Homo sapiens: one gene and its partners. The protein of the gene in region 2 purifies or fractionates together with the protein of the main gene of each other region. This does not show direct contact. Each region holds a gene or a part of one and is shown on either strand. Other genes may lie near its edges.

Evidence for each region. The genes of interacting proteins can lie anywhere in the genome.
Region 1: the proteins of FBXL13 (region 2) and CEP152 purify together in Homo sapiens (affinity purification with mass spectrometry, with the first as the bait; one large-scale study listed by BioGRID). This does not show direct contact.
Region 3: the proteins of FBXL13 (region 2) and HSPBP1 purify together in Homo sapiens (affinity purification with mass spectrometry, with the first as the bait; one large-scale study listed by BioGRID). This does not show direct contact.
Region 4: the proteins of FBXL13 (region 2) and PPP6R1 purify together in Homo sapiens (affinity purification with mass spectrometry, with the first as the bait; one large-scale study listed by BioGRID). This does not show direct contact.

The regions. Positions count from the first base shown.
Region 1 is NC_000015.10:48,751,006-48,756,256, forward strand, and holds part of CEP152 (centrosomal protein of 152 kDa), read right to left. Parts: coding exon 4,898-5,251; intron 1,465-4,897; coding exon 1,344-1,464; intron 1-1,343. UniProt on the Homo sapiens protein: Necessary for centrosome duplication; the function also seems to involve CEP63, CDK5RAP2 and WDR62 through a stepwise assembled complex at the centrosome that recruits CDK2 required for centriole duplication.
Region 2 is NC_000007.14:103,021,926-103,027,176, forward strand, and holds part of FBXL13 (F-box and leucine-rich repeat protein 13), read right to left. Parts: intron 3,306-5,251; coding exon 3,138-3,305; intron 1-3,137. UniProt on the Homo sapiens protein: Substrate-recognition component of the SCF (SKP1-CUL1-F-box protein)-type E3 ubiquitin ligase complex.
Region 3 is NC_000019.10:55,265,547-55,270,797, forward strand, and holds part of HSPBP1 (hsp70-binding protein 1), read right to left. Parts: intron 741-5,251; coding exon 585-740; intron 437-584; coding exon 340-436; intron 1-339. UniProt on the Homo sapiens protein: Inhibits HSPA1A chaperone activity by changing the conformation of the ATP-binding domain of HSPA1A and interfering with ATP binding. Interferes with ubiquitination mediated by STUB1 and inhibits chaperone-assisted degradation of immature CFTR.
Region 4 is NC_000019.10:55,231,085-55,235,704, forward strand, and holds part of PPP6R1 (serine/threonine-protein phosphatase 6 regulatory subunit 1), read right to left. Parts: intron 1,128-4,620; coding exon 991-1,127; intron 899-990; coding exon 718-898; intron 585-717; coding exon 514-584; intron 408-513; coding exon 326-407; intron 1-325. UniProt on the Homo sapiens protein: Regulatory subunit of protein phosphatase 6 (PP6). May function as a scaffolding PP6 subunit. Involved in the PP6-mediated dephosphorylation of NFKBIE opposing its degradation in response to TNF-alpha.

The DNA of each region.
Region 1 (5,251 bases), on a different chromosome or scaffold from region 2:
ACTAAGTATTTCATAATTAATGTTTTAAGTACTTCAAATAATAATGAGATATTAGGACAACATAACCAAACATCCAACAGTGGTACTCTCTGGTGGTAGGATTTTAAAGGACTTTATCACTTAATACATGTTTTGTATTATTTAATCCTTTCTAATGAATTTATTAATGTGTTTGTTTTTAAGGGAAAAAAGACTAAAGAAAAATATTTTTATAGTCTGATTTTTCTTTGGCCAAAACTAATTGCTTTTATATTTATAGGACTTCCTAAAGCTAAGTAACATCCAAAACTTGTTTCTACCCATTCATTTCACAGATTAAGATAGAATTCTCAGGCTATTCCAAACAGGGCATAAAAAGTACAATGCAAAATACAAATTAAGGTAATATTATCATCCACTGAATTGGCAGTAAGATATTCTCAGCCACCTAGAACCTAGAAGTAGGGGAAAAGGGTTTGTGAACAATGAGAAAGGCAGAGATGGTATAGGCAGAGATTCTCTAAGATTCTGGTAACATTGCCTTCTGAATTAGAAATGTGTGCAAACTGAGGTTATTTACTTAGTAGGTATGACTGGCCTTGGCAATTATTAGTTCTTTTCCAGGTTACATTAGAAACAGCAAATAAGCAGCAGAGAGAGGCTGTTGCGTTTGTGTGGGGAGGAAAGGAGTAGGCTGCAAAGGGTCAAGAAGCTAAAAGAGATGGGAGCTAATAAAGGATTTGCAAATTTCTAGCTCTGAAATCTCCATGAATAGGCAATATAAGTCCTATACTCCTCAGTAAGCTCTGAATACAAGCGGCTCTAGTACAGTATAAGAATTCTTTTGTCATGATGAAGAGTCTAAGTCATTAAGGAAAAGTTAAACTATTAATTCATCACTCTGCCATACGTTGGAAAGGAAGAGATTAAAAACACTGCCCAGGCCCTCAGAAAAACTCACAAATCAATTAGAAAACATCTAATACATTTCAGAAAGATTTCCATTAAAAAGTGATTGAAATTAGTTTCAGTAATTTGAATGAAAAAGTCTGTATTACTTGGCAATTCTCTGATGTGAAACCCTTGATTTCAGGGAATAAAAACATGACTTCTCCATTAAAACTCTCATGATTCTCCTTGTAACAAGAATCAGTTGTGAATGAAGGGAAAACCATAAATAGAAGAAGAGGGCCTAAATTAACCCTCTTATCTAAATACAAAATGAAATCTAGGAAGAGGGGACATTAAGTCAGACGATTATTACCCATTTGTTCACATCTATGATCTCCTTTTATCCTCAAAGCAACCCTTCAGATGGGTGATTATGGATGCTACAAAGACTGGTGGGAACAAAATCCAATTACCAGCTTCTGCTTCTGTTGCTTGTAAGGCCAAGGGCTGAGCATGGTGTCCAGCAGCAGGTCCAGGGTCTCCTTGGCCAGTGCCCTGGCTGGCAGAATCCTTAGAGAGCTCGGCCATATTTCTCTGAAATAAAGTATCTTCAAAGTTAATGCTTAGTAAAAATCTTTATACAATTTTATATTTAAAATGCTAATATTAAAAATACAAAGAGAAAACACTACCTGAAAAAAATCTTGCCTGAACTATCTATCGCCAATATTTTTCTTAGGGTGTTATATAAGTACTGTCACTGTACTAGGAACTAGCTTCCTATGAAACTTTCCAAATAAGAACACTGTCTGACAGGCGACTGGTGGGCAGCTATGAGACAGACAGAAGATATGGTTTGCACATTATATATGTGAATTTGAGATTTTTCAATGGTTTACGTGATTAAACCACATGAAAGACAATATAAAATCAGAATTGTTCTTGAAAATCTAGAACATTTTTACTACAGCAAGGAACAAGTTAATTAGCAAGTATAATGCTAACCCTCTGCCTCCTATGAATTGAAAATAACAGTTAAAAATCATTTTAAATTTATATAGTACTTCATATGCTTCTAAATACTTTAACATACACAGTAATTTTGTAAGGAAGGCCAGCTGAATGCCAAAGTTAAGGACAGAAACTGAGGCTTAGCTAAATTAAACATCTTGCACAAGACCATTTCTTCACTAATATTTATTGAACGTTTTTATGTTCCAGTCCTTGTCACAGCAATACAGCTACTAAATCAATGGATTTTTCATTTTTGGTTTTTGTTTTGAGATGGAGTCCTCCTCTATCGGCCAGGCTGAAGGGCATTGGCGCGATCTCAGCTCACTGCAACCTCCACCTCCCAGTTCAAGCGATTCTCCTGCCTCAACCCTCGTGATCCGCCTGCTTTGGCCTCCCAAAGTACTGGGATTACAGGTGTGAGCCACCACGCTCAGCCAAATCAATGGATTTTTATGGTAATGTTTTCAGATTTAAGATGACTACTAAATCGGAAAGGAACAGAATAGGTGGTATGGAGAAAGTAGTCTTACTGATTATTTAAAACATACTATATATGCCTGATTCTAGAAGCCTTGATTTTGATTATGAGAAACCACTTAATTGACTGTCAGAAAACCTACTTACAATGTCCAACAGAAGCAGAGGTTAGCAATTATAGAGAAGAGGCAATCAAGAAGCTATGGGTTTGAGGTCAAAAGGAGTAGGAAAAGCTGAACCAAAATGCAGTCAGTGCTTCCAGTTTTTACTCAAAACTGGGGAAGAAAAGTCAAGATAACAGAAAAGGGAGAAAAGCAACAACCTTTTTGTCTCAGTTTTAACTTGACTTTGATGGTAAAAGAGACAACATACATCCTTAAGTTTGCTTGAAAATTTTGTTCCATTTGATATTTGTTTTATCTGTTATGAACTACTGTATTAATATATTTTGATATGGCATTCATTTTCTTGAAAGCTATATTTTTCATTCATTGCATCCTCTCCATTTAAAAAAACTTTTGATTGTCTCAGTTATTTTAATGAGGACTTGTTTTTATATATTAATAAACCATCTTTTGTTTTAATTTCCATGAACAATTTTTAAAACTAGAGAGTTAATAAATTATAAATTATAGTTCCTCACATTTACAGCACCTATGTAACAAATTTAAAATCACTGCTCTATAATCATAGCTTTACCTCAAGGTCCTGAGTGAAGATAGCTCGAAAATGGCAGAAGGTCAAGTATTACTTCTATGACAAATTCCAGATTAGGCATTTCAAAGCCATCCTTTTCTCAGGAATGGAATCTGACCCACCCAACAAAAGCCGTAAACATCTAAATTCTTAGCCAGATTATGTGATTCTGTCTCCATAGACTTATGAGCCTCATTAAGTCACACAGATGATCTTATACTGCTTGCACAATTATAAGCCCTGTAAAAAGACTCCAGGGTTGATTTTATATGTATATATTAATGGTAGGAGAAAGGTGTCATAGTTTCTTGATTTTTATAACAGATTTTATAACTGTTATAAAAATCGAAACATGCTTACAAACGAAAGCATGTAAACATGATTTTCCCATCATTTCTCATCTCCAAATCTGCTATAATTTTTTAATTATATGTTTTCTCCAAGTTATTTTAATTATTTTCTCCAAAAAATCTCAATTAAGTGTGAAGCAGTATTCATGGGAAGTGATCTTGCCCAGTAAATTTTACATTGAAGGCAACTACTCGGTAGCAACATCTTTGTGAGGTCAAGGATAAAAATATCAACTGGGGTGAAGTAGGATGGAGTGAGCTGATCTTTCAGGTCCCTTCTGGCTCTAAAATTCTATACTGTTTCAAATGCAGGACCCAGAAAGGCTAAGCTGTGCCATGCATATCCTACCCAAACCCAAGGAATTAGGCCGGGGATTTGTATTTTATTTTTCCAGTGAGCAACTATGTGATTGCCCAATATAATAATCTAGTTATCATCGAATATGGAACTGAAACTCAAGGTTATTTTTTCTAGTTTATAACTCTCCCAAGTAGGTATTAATACCAAATGCTCAATCCTGGCCTTGAAACTCCTTAATCACAATATTTTGATGGAACTTCACTCTTAAGTCTCAACTCTATTAGACAAACCTTATAATACTGGCTTTTTTTTTTTTCCTGCCTCTAATCCCAAATGTTGAAATTGGCTAATCACCATGCTCAGAATATCATTCTGGATCTTTCATGCATACCTAATTGCTTTGATCATAAGGTAGCAAGAATTTGGTTTTACTGAAACTTTCATACAAATTAAAAGCTGGTCTCAGAGAGTACTTATATAACTAAAAGAATATAATTAATTCTATATGCACATATATAGTACATCCAGAAACTGGGCTTCAGAGTTTTATGCGAGTGAGTCGTATTTATTTGCTTGTTTCTATATCAATACCTTTGTACTTGGTTGGCATTTTTTTGCCTAAATGAGACATAAATTTATTGAGGGCAATAAATAGGCTTCCAAACTCTTTACAAGCTTTTAAGAAACTCTTATTATGCATATTTCATGAAGTGGTCAGGCCCAGAAAACAGAATTTTGAAAAAAAAATTTTCAGTTTCTGAAATCTCAGGCCCTTAGAAAGAACAGCATATATTCTTTATTTTATTTTAAGTTCTGGGATACATGTGCTGAACGTGAAGGTTTACTACATAGGTATACATGTGCCATGGTGGTTTGCTGCACCTATCAACCTGTCATCTAGGTTTTAGGCCCCGCATGCATTAGGTATTTGTCCTAAATATTCTTTAGGAAAAAGATATTTAGAGGCTAAAATCTTGTCTTGTATTTGTGACACTATGAAGTAGTAAAGTTTTTTGGCAACGAAACATGCAAACCTTTGGATTTCGCTACAGAAACTTTTTTAAACCACTGACAAAAACATAAGACTTACATCTACTAAAATTTAAAAGGAAAAAAGGAAAAAACACTATATACAACTTCTATAATCATTCTTGGTGTTCAATACCTTCTCTCACTCTCAGGAACATACCTTTTTCCATTCTGGGTCAGCGTTTTCTACAAGCAGAGGAAGTGTATCTTGAAATGCTTTCTGTATGCAGCCCTTTAGTTTTTCAAAATATTGCACAGACATCCATTTTGAAGAACAAGTCGACATGATTTCCAAAAGCTGCTTGTCCTCAGAATCACTGATGTGCTCCTTTTGGGTATCACTTAAAAGAACCCCAAGTACAGTCAGGATGTCTTCCTCATACTGATAGATTTCCAGTTGGATCCGCTTGGCTTCCTGCATAGTCCATTCTCTACGACTCTGGTCTAGACAAGTTTGTAATTCTGTCTCCTTCTGAAGAAGTAGTTCAGTTTTTTGTTTCATAAAGTCTTCTTT
Region 2 (5,251 bases):
TCCTCAAGGATCTAGAACTAGAATTACCATTTGACCCAGCCATCCCATTACTGAGTATATACCCAAAGGATTATAAATCATGCTGCTATAAAGACACATGCACACGTATGTTTATTGCGGCACTAGTCACAATAGCAAAGACTTGGAACCAACCCAAATGTCCAACAATGATAGACTGGATTAAGAAAATGTGGCACATATATACCATGGAATACTATGCAGCCATAAAAAATGATGAGTTCATGTCCTTTGTAGGGACATGGATGAAGCTGGAAACCATCATTCTCAGCAAATTATCACAAGGACAGAAAACCAAACACCGCATGTTCTTACTCATAGGTGGGAATGGAACAATGAGAACACATGGACACAGGATGGGGAACACCACACACCAGGGCCTGTAGTGGGGTGGGGGGAGGGGTGAGGGATAGCATTAGGAGATATACCTAATGTAAATGACGAGTTAATGCGTGCAGCACACCAACATGGCACATGTATACATATGTAACAAACCTGCACGTTGTGCACATGTACCCTAGAACTTAAAGTATAAAAAAAAAAACCAGAAATATAGACTAATGGAACAGAATAAAGAGCCCAGAAATAATGCCACACATCTACACAATCAAGAAAAACAAGCAACAGGGAAAGAACTCTTCATTCAATAAATGATACTGGGATAACTGGCTAGCCACACGCGGAATATTGAAACTGGACCACTTCCTTACACCATATACAAAAATCAACTCAATATAGATGCAAGACTTAAATGTAAAACTTAAAACTATAACAACCCTGGAAGATAACCTAGGAAATACCATTCTGGGCATAGAACTTGGCAAAAATTTCATTATGAAGATGCCAAAAGCAATTGCAACAAAAACAAAAATTAACAAATGGGGCCTAATTAAACAAAAGAACTTCTAGCAGCAAAAGAAACTATCAACAGAATAAACAGACAACCTATAGAATGGTATAAAACATTTGTGAACTATACATCCAACAGAAGTCTAATATCCACAATCTATAAGGATCTTAAACAAATTTACAAGAAAAAAACACCACCATTAGCCAGGCACGGTGGCTCATGCCTGTAATCCCAGCACTTTGGGAGGCCGAGGCGGGTGGATCACGAGGTCAGGAGATCGAGACCATCCTGGCTAACACGGTGAAACCCCGCCTCTACTAAAAATACAAAAAATTAGCCGGGCGTGGTGGCGGGCACCTGTGGTCCCAGCTACTCAGGAGGCTGAGGCAGGAGAATGCCGTGAAACCGGGAGGTGGAGCCTGCAGTGAGCTGAGATCGCGCCACTGCACTCCAGCCTGAGCGACAGAATGAGACTCCGTCTCAAACAAAACAAAACAAAACAGAACAAAACAAAAAAAAATACCATTAAAAGAGTGGTGAAAACAGACAAACAAACACTTCTTAGAAGACATACAGGCAACCAATGAGCATATGAAAAAATGCTCAACATCACTAATCATTAGAGAAATGTAAATCTCACACCAGTTAGAATGGCTATTATTAAAAAGTCAGAAAATAACAGATACTGGCAAGGTTACAGAGAAAAGGAAATGCTTACACACTGCTGGTGGGAATGTAAATTAGCTCAGCCATTGTGGAAAGCAGTTTGGCCATTTCTCAAAGAACATAAAACAGAATTGCCATTCAACCCAACAATCCCATTATTGGGTATATGCCCAAAGGAATATAAATCATTCTACCATAAAGACACATGCATGCATATGCACATCACAGCACTATTCACAATAGCAAAGATATGAAATCAACCTAAATGCCCATCAACAGTAGACTGGATTTTTTAAAATGTGGTATATATATACATTGAAATACTATGCAGCCATAAAAAAGAATGAGATCATGTCCTTTGCAGCAACATGGACGGAGTTGGAGACCATTATCCTAGGCAAACTAACACAGAGACAGAAAACCAAATACTACACATTCTCACTTACAAGTGGAAGCTAAACTTCTGAGTACATATGGACACAAAGAAAGGAAGAACAGACACCAGGATCTACTTGAGGGTGGAGGTGGGAGGATGGTGAGGATTGGAGAAGTATCTATTGAATGCTAGGCTTATAACCTGGGTGACAAAATATACACCAAATTCCTATGACACGCAATTTACCTACATATAACAAACCTTCACATGTACTCCCTCAACCTAAAATAAAAGTTAAAAAGAGAGAGAGAGAGAGAGAGAGAGAGAGAGAGAGAGAGAGAGAGAGAGAGAAATAATTAGGGCAAGGATGACAGACTTTATTACATAAAGCTTTAAAATTTCTGTCATCAGCCGGGTGTGGTGGTTCATGCCTGTAATCCCAGCACTTTGGGAGGCCAAGGTGGGTGGATCACCTGAGGTCAGGAGTTTAAGACCAGCCTGGCCAATATGGTGAAACCCCATCTCTACTAAAAATACAAAAAATTAGCTGGGCGTAGTGGTGGGCACCTGTAATCCCAGCTACCTGGAGGCTGAGGCTGGAGAATCGCTTGAACCCAGGAGGCGGAGGTTGCAGTGAGCTGAGATTGCACCAATGCACTTCCAGCCTGGGCAACAAGAGCGAAACTCCATCTCAAAAAAAAAAAAAAAAAAAAAAAATTCTGTCACCAGAAGACTCCACAAGCAAAACTGAAAGCAAACATCAAGTGTGGGGGAAAAAAATCTCCAAATATATTCCAAAGGGCTAATATTGCCAATATAAAGAGCTACTACAAACCAGTAAGAAAATTATAGGAATTACAATGTAAAAACAGACAAGATAGGAGCAGGTAATTTGTAAAGGAAGAAATAATGGGCAAAAATATCCTTATTCTAACTGAATGCAATACATCAAGAGTAGGATTATAGTGTATACATACATATATATGTATATATATGTGTATATATATATATATATATATATATTTTTTTTTTTTTTTTTTTTGAGATGGAGTTTTGCTATTGTCGCCCAGGCTGGAGTGCAATGGTGTGATCTCGGCTCACTGCAACCTCTGCCTCCTGGGTTCAAGCAATTCTCCTGTCTCAGCCTCCCAAGCAGCTGGGATTACAGGCATGCACCACCACACTTGGCAGATTATAGTATATAATGTATACTGAATTCATACAAACCTGTAATATTGCTCTTTCAGGTAACAGTGAAATGTCACATTTTAGAGTCTCATCTACAAGAAAGACTTCAGAAGAACTTCGTTCAGGAAAATTGGATTCTTCTGCAGCAGCTCTTTTGAGTATTAACCTATTTTTCCATTTTTTCAATTGAAGTTCATGTTTTAATATCTGCAATGAAAATAATTTTAAAATTCCATGGAATTGCTGTAACGGTCAAGAGAGATGACAGACACAAAGCACAGTGCTTGACACAAGAATAGGACCAATTAAACATTATTTATGATCGTCATCATTACTACATAAACTATAATTTTTCATAAGCATGTTTAATGTTCTCTAAACCACCGAAGTATTACAGATCATTTCCATTAGTTGTCATAAAACACTGGCACAGGCAGCCATCTTGAAACGCTGATCTAGTCTCCTCTTTCACAGATGAGGAAGTGAGGACCACAAAGTCAAGGCTCTGGCAATGATAAAACTGGTAATTGGTGCATGGAGTGAAGGTGATTAACATACAGATAACAAAAAAGGGAAGTCAGTAGTAATGCATTTGGGAAATTGCCAAATTTATTGTCACAGGAAGTCCCCATTTTAACTTTTGATACACTTCTGAAAACTGTGTAATAAATAAAGGTAGTATTTCAGTCATAAACATATACACAATATTGGCATAATATATATTGATGTAATATATATATGTGTATGTGTGTATGTATGTATGTATGTGTCTGTGTATATACACACACATATTAGAGCCTGAGGCAGAACACATGTGGAGCGCTTGACACACAGGTGTTCCCTGCCTCTGCTCCCAGCATACACTTGCCATCCTCACTCCATTTAAGTGAATGTAGAATGATTGTTAGGTCAATAAATCATATATCTAGAAAAAAAGTTCTCTAAACACACAATTAACTATATAATATATATAATATACATATATCTTGATGATATTATAGTACATATAGCATAAATTATATATATTAATATATATCAACCACTGTGTGCAAAACATTACGCTCAGCATATGGACAATACTAAGAGAACAATACTGCCTGCTCTCAGGGATTTTTTTGTTTGTTTGTTTTTTGAGAAGGAGTTTCGCTTTTGTCGCCCAGGCTGGAGTGCAGTGGCGTGATCTCGGCTCACTGCATCCTCCACCTCAAGGGTTCAAGAGATTCTCCTGACTCAGCCTCCCAAGTAGCTGGGATTACAGGGGCCCACCACCATGCCTGGCTAATTTTTATATTCAGGGATGTTTAGCTGAAGGGGGTGTATAAGGGGGGACTGGTCATGTACAGTTACCTATTTCACTATTAGACAATCAGTGATCAGGCATAGAGGGCAGTTATCAAAACACTAGCTTAACATACAGACTGGTGGAAAGCAGTGAATGAGCAGACTAACATAGTATTAGGTACCCAAAGTAGAGCTGTTTCACTGGTAACATTGAAAAGGTAGTTTGCAAAAGGCAAAGCCTAGAGGACAGCCTGCAAGACCACCAGCTCAAAACCTATAGATTATAAACTTCTAGAGAGCATCTCAAGTAATCTCTGAGATGCTTAAAGCTCAGCACAGGCTCTAGCATTGTTTTAGGCATATGTAAGTAATAAATCTCCTCATACTCTTTTGCTGCGTGTGTGCTATTGTCAGTCTCAACATCTGAACCAAATTTAGGTGAGTAGAGGCATTGATCCATGGGGCAACCACAAAAGAAGGGGATTTAACTTCACCCCACATTCTCTTTCCTATCTACCCTTACTTTATATTTCAAAGAATATTAATAAAATATCTCCTACTAAATAATGTAACTACAGAAAAAAAAATCCAGCATGTTTCTACATCTGATCATAGTGTTACTTTGAGCATACTAAACCAATATTAAGTAATGATATACTAATAGCTGAAGTAAATTTTAAATTATTAAGTTAAAGAACAAGAATCCCGGCCAGACACGGTGGCTCACGCCTGTAATCCCAGCACTTTAGGAGGCCGAGGCGGGCAGATCACCTGAGGTCACGAGTTCAAGACCAGCCTAGCCAACATGGTGAAACCCCATCTCTACTAAAACTACAAAAAAATTAGCTGGGTGTGGTGGCAGACACCTGTAA
Region 3 (5,251 bases), on a different chromosome or scaffold from region 2:
TGCCCCTGGCCCAGGGTGGGTGCTGAGGGGCTCAGCACAGGGCCTGGTGCGTGTCAACTCTGGTGTGCTGTTGAGAGCTCCAGCATCATCTGATTAGACACTAATCCACTGGTGGGGGCGTGTACAGAAGCCTCTCTCCCTCCTGCAAGGCCTCTGTGCCAGCCCTACTGGTGAGGAAACTGAGGCTCCCTGACTCCTGCTCCTTTCTGGCCCCACACCCTTCCTCTCTACGGGAAGGTCCCAACTCCTGAGTCCCTACGGGCTGATTCCTGAGCCACCCCCACCTTGAGAGGACGGGGCCCCCACCCCAGGCCCCGTCCTCTCAAGGAGCCAAAGTACCTGCACAGGGCTCCAAGCACGTGCTCGTGGAAGGGGCTGTGCTCTGTCCGCACCAGGGCCACCAGCTGCTGGACCATCCCCATGGAGCACAGGGTCCCTGGGGGGAGGGCTGCAGGGGTCAGAGGGGCAGCCCCACCCATCTCCTATGCCCTCCCCGGGATGCCTGTTCCTCCCCTTCTCCCACACCTGCACCCACCCCAGGGCGTCTGCTCCCCACTCCTGCCCTCACTCAAGGGCTGCCACACCTTTGTGTTCAGGGTGGCCCACCAGCAGGTTCTGCAGCAGGAATGCTGATTTGACCTTGAGCTTCTGCACCTGCTGCTGCATGGCCCTCATCAACACAGAGAAGCCGTCCAGGCGGAGGAACTGCAGCAGCCCAGCCTCCTGCTCTCGGACCAGACCTGGGAGAGGGGGAAAGGTCCTGAGCTTGCAGTCACCACCACCACCACTGTCATCACAAGCACCATCACCAACATCATCACAACCACCATCACCAACATCATCATCACCACCATCACCACTATCTTCACCACCATCACAATCATCATCATCACCATTCTCATCCTCACCACCATCACCATCACCACCATCCTCACCACCACCACCATCACTATCACCATCACCACCACCACCATCACCACCACCATCATCACCATGACATCACCAACATCACCATCACTATCACCATCACTATCACCATCACCACCACATCACCATCACCGCCATCATCATCACTACCATTAACAATATAATTATCGTCAATCATCGTCACCATCATCACCACCAACCACTATCATCCCTTGCCATGGGCCTGCATATGCAAGCATTATCTTTTTTTGAAGTATGCTTTTGAGATATAATTCACAATCCACACAGTTCAGCCTTTTAAAGATATTCACAGGGTTGTATAACCATCACCACTAACTCTAGGAAATTTTCATCACCCCCCAAAGGAAACCTATGAGCAGTCATTCCCAATTTCCCTTCCCTCTGGCCCCTGCAACCACAGATATACTTTCTTCCTTTATGGATTTACCTGTCCCAGACATTTAATATAAATGTGTCCATAAAATACGTGACCTTTTGTGTCTGACTGCTTTCACTCAGCATGATGTTTTCCAGGTTCATTCATGTCGTAAGTGGTATCAGCACTTCATTCTTTTTCATGGCTGAATAACATTCCATTGTATGGATATACCATATTTTATCCATTCCTCCATTGATGGAAGCATCATCTTTTTTAATTTTTTTATTTTATTTATTTACTTATTTATTTCATTTTGAGATGGACTCTCGTTCTGTTGCCCAGGCTGGAGTGTGCAGTGGAGCAATCTTGGCTCACTGTAACCTCCGCTCGCAGGTTCAAACTATTCTTCAGCCTCAGCCCCCCAAGTAGCTGGGATTATAGTAACCTGCCACCACACCCGGCTAATTTTTGTATATATAGTAGAGACAGGGTTTCACCATGTTGGCCAGGTTGGTCTCAAGCTCCTGACCTAAAGTGATCCACCTGCCTGGGCCTCCCAAAGTGCTGGGATTACAGGCATGAGCCATTGCGCCCGGCTGTGTCATCTCTCTCTTTTTTTTTTTTTTGAGACAGAGTCTTGCTCTATCATCCAGGCTAGAGTGCAGTGGCACCATTTTGGCTCACTGCAACCTCTGCTTCCCAGGCTCAAGCTATTCTCCTGCCTCAGACTCCCGAGTAGCTGGGATTACAGGTATGCACCACTACACCCAGCTAATTTTTGTATTTTGAGTAGAGACAGGGTTTTGCCATGTTGGCCAGGCTGGTATTGAACTCCAGACCTCATAATCCACCTGCCTCAGCCTCCCAAGGTGCTGGGATTACAGGCGTGAGCCACCGTCCCCAGTCCGCAACATCTTTTAATCCTCACAATTATCCTGGAAGTGTGTGCTTTCAGAATTCTATTTTACAGATGAGGAAACTGAGGCCTAAAGAGCCAGGCTACACAGCATGCATGACCTTTATCCAGAGGGCAATGAGAACTCTGGAAGGACTCCCAGCAGGATGAGAACTGACCTTTGGAGTGCACCTCCAGTAAGGTGCCCCCTCCTGGGTAGGCTCTAGGCCTGTGCTGGCCAAGAAGGACAGAAGCTGCTAGTAGCTTGTGGCCACTAAACACCTGATATGTGGCCAGTGCAACTAAGGAAAAGAGTTGTTCATTTCATTTAAGTTCCATTCATTTAAACTTAAGGTGAAAAACTGAAGCAGTGTAAAATATTTTCCATTAAACACAACGTTGGCTGGGCGCGGTGGCTCATGCCTGTAATCCCAGCACTTTGGGAGGCCGAGGTGGGCAGATCACTTGAGGTCAGGAGTTCGAGACCAGCCTGACCAACATGGTGAAACCCCGTCTCTACTAAAAATACAAAATTAGCTGGGCGTGGTGGCGTGCGTCTGTAATCCCAGCTACTAGGGAGGCTGAGGCAGGAGAATCATTTGAACCCGGGAGGTGGAGGTTGCAGTGAGCCGAGATTGCGCCATTACACTCCAGCCTGAGCAAAAAGAGCGAAACTCCATCTCACACACACACAAAAAGAAAACCAAAAAAAGAAAAACACACACAACGTTGTTGCTCTGGCGCACTCCACACTACCCCTGAAAACTCAGCATGTTGCGATGTGCTTCATTTGTAAAATGCACACACTAGGTTTTGAAGACTTAGCATGACAAAAAATACAGTGTCTCATTAATAGTCCATATTAATTACACATTGAAATTATAATAGTTTGGACATATTGGGTTACATATTTATTTATTTTAGTTTATTTTATTTCATTTTTGAGACAGAGTCTCGCTCTGTCGCCCAGGCTGGAGTGCAGTGGCAGTTGGCTCACTGCGACATACGTCTCTCGGGTTCAAGCAATTTTTATGCCTCAACCTACCGAGTAGCCGAGATTACAGGCATGCCCCACCATGCCTGGCTAATTTTTTGGTATTTTTAGTAGAGACAGGGTGTCACCATGTTGGCCAGGCTGGTCTTGAGCTCCTGGCTTCAAGTGATCCACCTGTCTCGGCCTCCCAAAATGTTGAGATTATAGGCATGAGTCACCACGCCCAGCCAGATGTTATTTAATTAAAGAAAGAAAAAAGAACAGGCATGCATGGACTGGAAAACACAAAGACTCCTCTCATTCAATCTGTAAGCAAGGCCTGTCAGCTCTACCTTCAAAATGTACCCAGGAGAGACCTGTCCCCTTTACGCCAGGGTTTCTCCACCTGGGCACGGTTGGTATCTGGGGCCAGATCATTCTGGGTTGGGAGGCCCGTCCTGTGCATTGCAGGATGTTGAGCAGCATCCCTGGCCTCTACCCAGTAGATGCCAATAGTCCCTCTCTCCCAGCTGCGACAACTAAAAATGTCTCCAGACATTTGTCTAAATGTCCTGTGGAGGACACGATTGTCCCTGTTTGAGAACCACTGCTCCCTACCACAACCTTGATCTCTTGCCTAGGTTATCACCATAACCCCCCAGCTCACCGCCCACCTTCCACCCACCCTCGCCGCATTCACCCTCTTCTCTGTGCAGCAGTTGGGGGCAGGGATCACAGTATGGCTGCCGTCATTTTTGGAAAGAAAGCCAAAGTCATCACTGCAGCCCACACATCTCCCTTAAAAAAGTTACGCTTATTCAGCGCTAAAAAGAAATGAGCTATCAAGCCAAGAAAAGACATGGAAGAACCTTAAAAGCAGATTACTAAGCCAAAGAAGCCAGTCGGAAAAGGCTGCAGATTGCATGGTTCCAAGCATATGACATTCTGGAAAAGGCAAAACTATGGAGACAGTAAAAAGCTCAGGGGTGGGATGACTAGCGGGAGCACAGAGGATTTGTAGGGCAGCGAGATTCCTCTGTAGAATACTACAGTATGGATCCATGTCATGATACAGTTGTCCAAACCCATAGTACATACAGCATCAAGAGTGCGCCCCAGTGTCAACTATGGACTCTGGGTGACAATGAGGTGTCCATGTAGGTTCATCGATTGTAATAAATGTGCCACTCTGGTAGACTGTAACAAGGAACCACTTTGGAGTGGCTCCACAGAGGGCGAGCGAGTCCATCCCCTCCTGTCCTGGGAAGGGCAGTGGCACCACCGCCTCGGGCAGCAGGAGCTGAGGGGACGTACCCTGCAAATGGCTCCCAGCACGGAACTCCAGTAATGGTACTGGACAGCCACACAATGGCATACCCTGCAGCCACCAAAAAAAAGGACAGATGCCACTGAATGGTATACTTTAACATTTTCATGTGAATTTTACCCCCGAGCAAAAAAAAGAATGGCATCCAAGCTCCCAGAGCTCTTGCCCTGCATCGTGCACAACTTTCGCTGGGGAAGCCGACCACCACGTGGTGAGGCCGCTCACGCAGCCCGAGCTTCCTGCCAACTGCCAGCAAAACTCTGCTAGCCCCGGGGCGAGCCATGGTGGAAGCCCATCTCTAGCACCCCTTCCTCAGAGGGGGATTGTGAGGGATCAATGAGGTGCAGCGCACAGGGCTTAGTGCAATGAGACCTTCAGGGAACGAGGCCCGGCTGACGGCTGACCACAACCTCATGCAACCTCATGCAACCTCATGAAGACGCAAAGCCAGAAGCCGCCCTCCTCAGCAGGGGCCACTGCTGCATTCCTCACCCGCAGGAAGGGGAAAGATAAGCTACTGTTGCTTAAGAAAAAAGGACAGAGGCAGGTCAAGGTGCGCCACAGTCAGGATGGCCTGTGCCAGCCGTGCACATCTGAGGAAACGAGATTAATCCGTGTGTCTGTGTGCACACATACCACACACGACACACTCCACATAAGCACACACCACACACCCCGTATACACACACCACATCCACACATCCCACACACGCCATGCACATCCACACACCACACATACGCACCACACAT
Region 4 (4,620 bases), on a different chromosome or scaffold from region 2:
CGCCTCCTGTCCCTGTGGAGGAGGTACTCGAGGCCGGCTGAGACAGCCCCAAAGGGTCTTCTGCATGCTCTCACCCTCCCAATCCTTCACACCCTCCAACGAGCCCTTCCCAACCCTGGGGCTCAAGGGCCCCAAGCATCCCAGGCTACTAAGAGAAGAACCAGCCTACAGAGTGCAAGGGGCTGGGGCACAACATGAGGCTGCGCCTGGGGGTCCTGCAAAGGAGGCCTGGAGCAGCTCAGGGACAAGATGAACCCAGAGCCCACCTCAGCGAAGAGGAGAAAAGACTTCTCCCGATACTAGGCAGCCCCACCTCGCTGCTCACCTGTCCGAGGAGCTGGGGGCAGAACGGATCCCGTGGAAGGTGGCCTGAAGGTCCCCGATGCTAACCAAGGCCTGGCAAGGGGCTGTGGGGGATAAGAGATCTCAGCTGCAGCTCCCAGCAAGCTCGGAGCTGGCCAGGCTGCTCTCTCTGCCCAGGGCCGCGGGTGGGCAGGGCAAAGCGGGGCTCACCTGAGGGCTCCGTGACTTTGCTGCCTTCTGTGGCTTCCTGAGGTGCTGAGGGGGGTGTGGGGTCCTGAGACCTGGTAGGCGAGAGAGGCAGCCCAAGGGGGCAGCTAGGGTTAGCACTCGAGCCTATGAGAGGACGGGGACCCCATGGCCACCTCCTGGCCTCGGGATACCAGCACCATTTAGCCCGTTCCATCCGGTTCTCACCTGAGCTGCAGGGCGTCACGGGCAGGAGGGCTGGCCAGGCTCTGAGTGGGGAGGCCCTGGGGCACACTGAGGGGCCCCTGTGGGGCTGGAGGCCCAGTGTGCAGCTCTTCCTCCCCGGAGACTCGGGGGCTGGTCGGGGCATCTGTAGGCACTGGGTCAAAGGTGGCTGTCCAGCTGGGGCCTGGGATAGAGGTGGGGGAGCGGGATGGAGGGTGAACTCAGTAGCAGGCAGACAGCCCTGTGTACACCTGACCACACCGCCCATTCATTCACCTGGAGGCTGAGGGCCAGGGCTGGGGTAGGACAGAGGGGTGGCCCCTCCACGGGCTGCACAGCCAATGCCCTCCTCGTCTTCCTCCTCCTCCTCGTCCTCCTCTTCTTCGTCCTCACTGTCTGTGCTGCCTCCACTCCTGCCCCAGAAACCACCTCGTCAGCTAGCTGTGTGGGACAGACCGGCCGACACCCATCCTGTTCCCTGCAGCCCAGGGTCAGCCCAAGGAGAGCGGGCTGGGATGACAGGCAGGTCACAGAAGGGTCCAGGGAGCCTGGGGTGTGACGACACCAGGAGAGGCTGGGAGAGGGAGTTCTGAGCCAACGGCAAGAACACAGGCGGGCAGGGACAGAATGCGGCCGTAAGGAGACCGTCCGTCGCCAGTCATCCGTGGAGGGCAGGCCCTGGGGAAGTGGGCTGAGCCTCAGCCATGGCAACCAGAGCAGACAGACCCACTCACCAGCTCTCAAGCCACCTCCCAGCCGTCACCTCACACGGTCACCACAGTGACAGGCCTTCCCACCAGCAGGCCCACCCTCTGGACAGAGGCTTCACACTACTCTCTCCCTCCAACTAGAAACTCCAAGAAGGCAGAGATGGCTGAGTTTTGCCACTGCTGTATCCTCAGCCCTGAGAAACCACCAGGCACCCATAGCTGCTCCAAAAACACTGGCTGAATGTTGACTAACACACACCTGTGAGCATGAAGAAAATCCAAGCAACCTACGTGCTGATCAACCGGGGAAGGGGTAAGCAAAGTAACACTAAAACTAAGCTTTAACAACGAGGGTGCACTCTGAAAAACGCCATCATTAGGCGATTTTGCTATTGTGTGAACATTCTAGAGTGCACTTACACACACCTGGATGGTGGCGCCTCCTGTACACCTAGGCTCTGTGGTATAGCCTATTGTTCCTAGACTACCGACCTATACAGCATGTTACAGTACTGAATACTACAGGCAATTCTAACAATGGTAAATGTTTGTGTATCTAAACATAGGAAAAATACAGCAAAAATAGAGGATTATAATCTCACGGGACCACTGTCATATGTGGTCCATCGCTGACCCAAAGATGCAGTATGGGACTATATACTATGTCTAAAATGCTGACCCAATATTTTTGTCTTAACAGAGTAACTGACTACTTTAACTGGAAAGTAATATATCTGTATATAGTTAAAAGTAAACTAAAATACTCAACGACTAAGGAGTATAAAGGAAGCCCCTCAACCTAACATAAGGCATCTACAAAACCCCACAACTAACAGCATGCTTACATGGCAAAACGCTGAATGCTTCCCCCTAAGATCAGGAACAAAACAAGGATGCCTGTTCTTGCCACTTCTGTTCAACATTGTCCCGGAGGCTAGCCAGGGCAACCAGGCAAGAAAAGGAAATTAAAATCATCCAGATTTGAAAGGAAGGAAAATGAACTCTATTCACATGACATGATTCTGTACATAGAAAATCCTAAGGAGTCCACTAAAACTATCAGAACTCATACATTAGTTCAGCAAGGTTGCAGGATGAAAGATCAACATACAAAAACCTATTGTATTTTCATATACTTGTAACAATCTGAAAACAATTTCAAGAAAATTCCATTTACAATAGTAACAGAAAGAAGAAAACAGGAATAAACTTAAAAGAAATACAAAGCCTCATACTCTAAAACCTACGAAACATTGTTGAAAGAAATTTTAAGACCTATATAAAAAGACATCCATGTTCACGTATTAGAAGACGCAAGGTGGCTTCTTGGTTGAAATTGACAAGCTGATCCTAAAATTCATATGGAATCTCAAGAAATCCCAAATAGGGCAAAACAATCTTTAAAAAGAAGAACAAGGTTGGAAAACTAAAACCTCCCATTTTCTTTTTTCTGTGAGATGGAGTTTCGTTCTTGTCACCCAGACTGGAGTGCAATGAATGGTGCGATCTCAGCTCACTGCAACCTCTGCCTGCCAGGTTCAAGCGATATTCCTGCCTCAGCCTCCTGAGTAGCTGGGATTACAGGCACCCACCACAGCCGGCTAATTTTTGTATTTTTAGTAGAGATGGGGTTTCACCATGTTGGCCAGGCTGGTCTCAAACTCCTGACCTCAGGTGATCCATCCACCTTGGCCTCCCAAAGTGCTGGGATTACAGGTGTGAGCCACCGTGCCCAACAAACCTCCCATTTTCAAAACTTACTATAAAGCAACAGCAACCAGGCCAGTGTGGTACTGGATAAAAACAACACACAGACTGATAGAACAGAACAGAGAGGGAAGAAACAAACTCATACATATGGTCAAATATTTCCTTTTTACACAGGTGCCAAGATGATTCAGTGGAGAAAGGACAGTGTCTTCAACAACTGGTGCAGGGAAAACTGGTTATCTATATGTAAAGGGATGAAGGTGGACCACCTCACATCATATACAAAATTTAGCTCAAAATGAATGGAAAACCATAGAAATAATGCTATAAAACTCTTAGAAGAAAAGAGAGGGCTAAGTCAAGATGCTGGATTTGGCAGTGACACACTTGTGCACCAACAACACGTGCAAGGGTATTCACAGCGGCCGCACTCACAGCGGCTGCACTCACAGCAGCGAGCAACAGGAACCTGCCCAAAGGCCTGTCAACTGCAGAACAAGCAATTCAGCTGCAGCTCATCATGCATGGCACTGCCCCACTGCACGAGAGCCAGGGGCACCCAAACACACAACAGGGAAGGAGCTCACAAGCAGAGTGTTGAGCAACAGAGGTCAGACATAAAAGGAGATGCTGTATGCTATATCAAGTGAAAACAGAGACAAAACTCATCTACAGGGTTAGAAGCCAGGACAACTTTACCCTCAGAAGGGAGGATACTGGCTAACAGAGGGGATGTGGGTACTGGGAAGGTCCTGCTCCTGGGTCTGGGCACTGAGGAAGGATATCCATTGGCCACACACTCAGGATCTGTATGTACACTTGTCTATACGCATGTTACATGTCAATAAAAAGTGAAAACAGCCTAATTCCGAAATCAAAAGTCATGAGTCAAAAACTCAGTTGCAGATGATGACTTAGTGTTCAGGCTGTCAAATCTACATGGCATGAACCCATTTCATCACAGCGACTCTGGGGCCGGCCAGTATTAAGAGAAAAAAAAAAAACAATGTAACATTTGCACTAAAATGTCATCACAGCCTGATTGGAGAGGGACGTCATCATCTCTCATTTTACTGGAATTAGAGAAGAGAGAAGCTGCCTGGGACCATCTTACCCCCCTTTCTAGGAAAACGTGTGAGAGCTAACACGAGGAAGTGAAGTGAAGGGATGAAGGAAGGAGACAGGGAGGCGGGAAGAGAGAGACACACACAGACCAAGCCATACCTCAGGACCTGCCTATTTTTTCAGCCACAGAGATTATCCCTTTCTTTTCATAACTTAACTCATTTGAATTAGATTCCTTTTTTTTTTTTTTTCTGAGACAGAGTCTCGCTCTGTCGCCCAGGCTGGAGTACAGTGGCGCAATCTTGGCTCACTGCAAGCTCCGCCTTCCGGGTTCACGCCATTCTCCTGCCTCAGCCTCCCAAGTCGCTGGGACCACAGGTGCCCGCCACCACGCCCGGCAAATTTTTTGTATTTTTAGTAG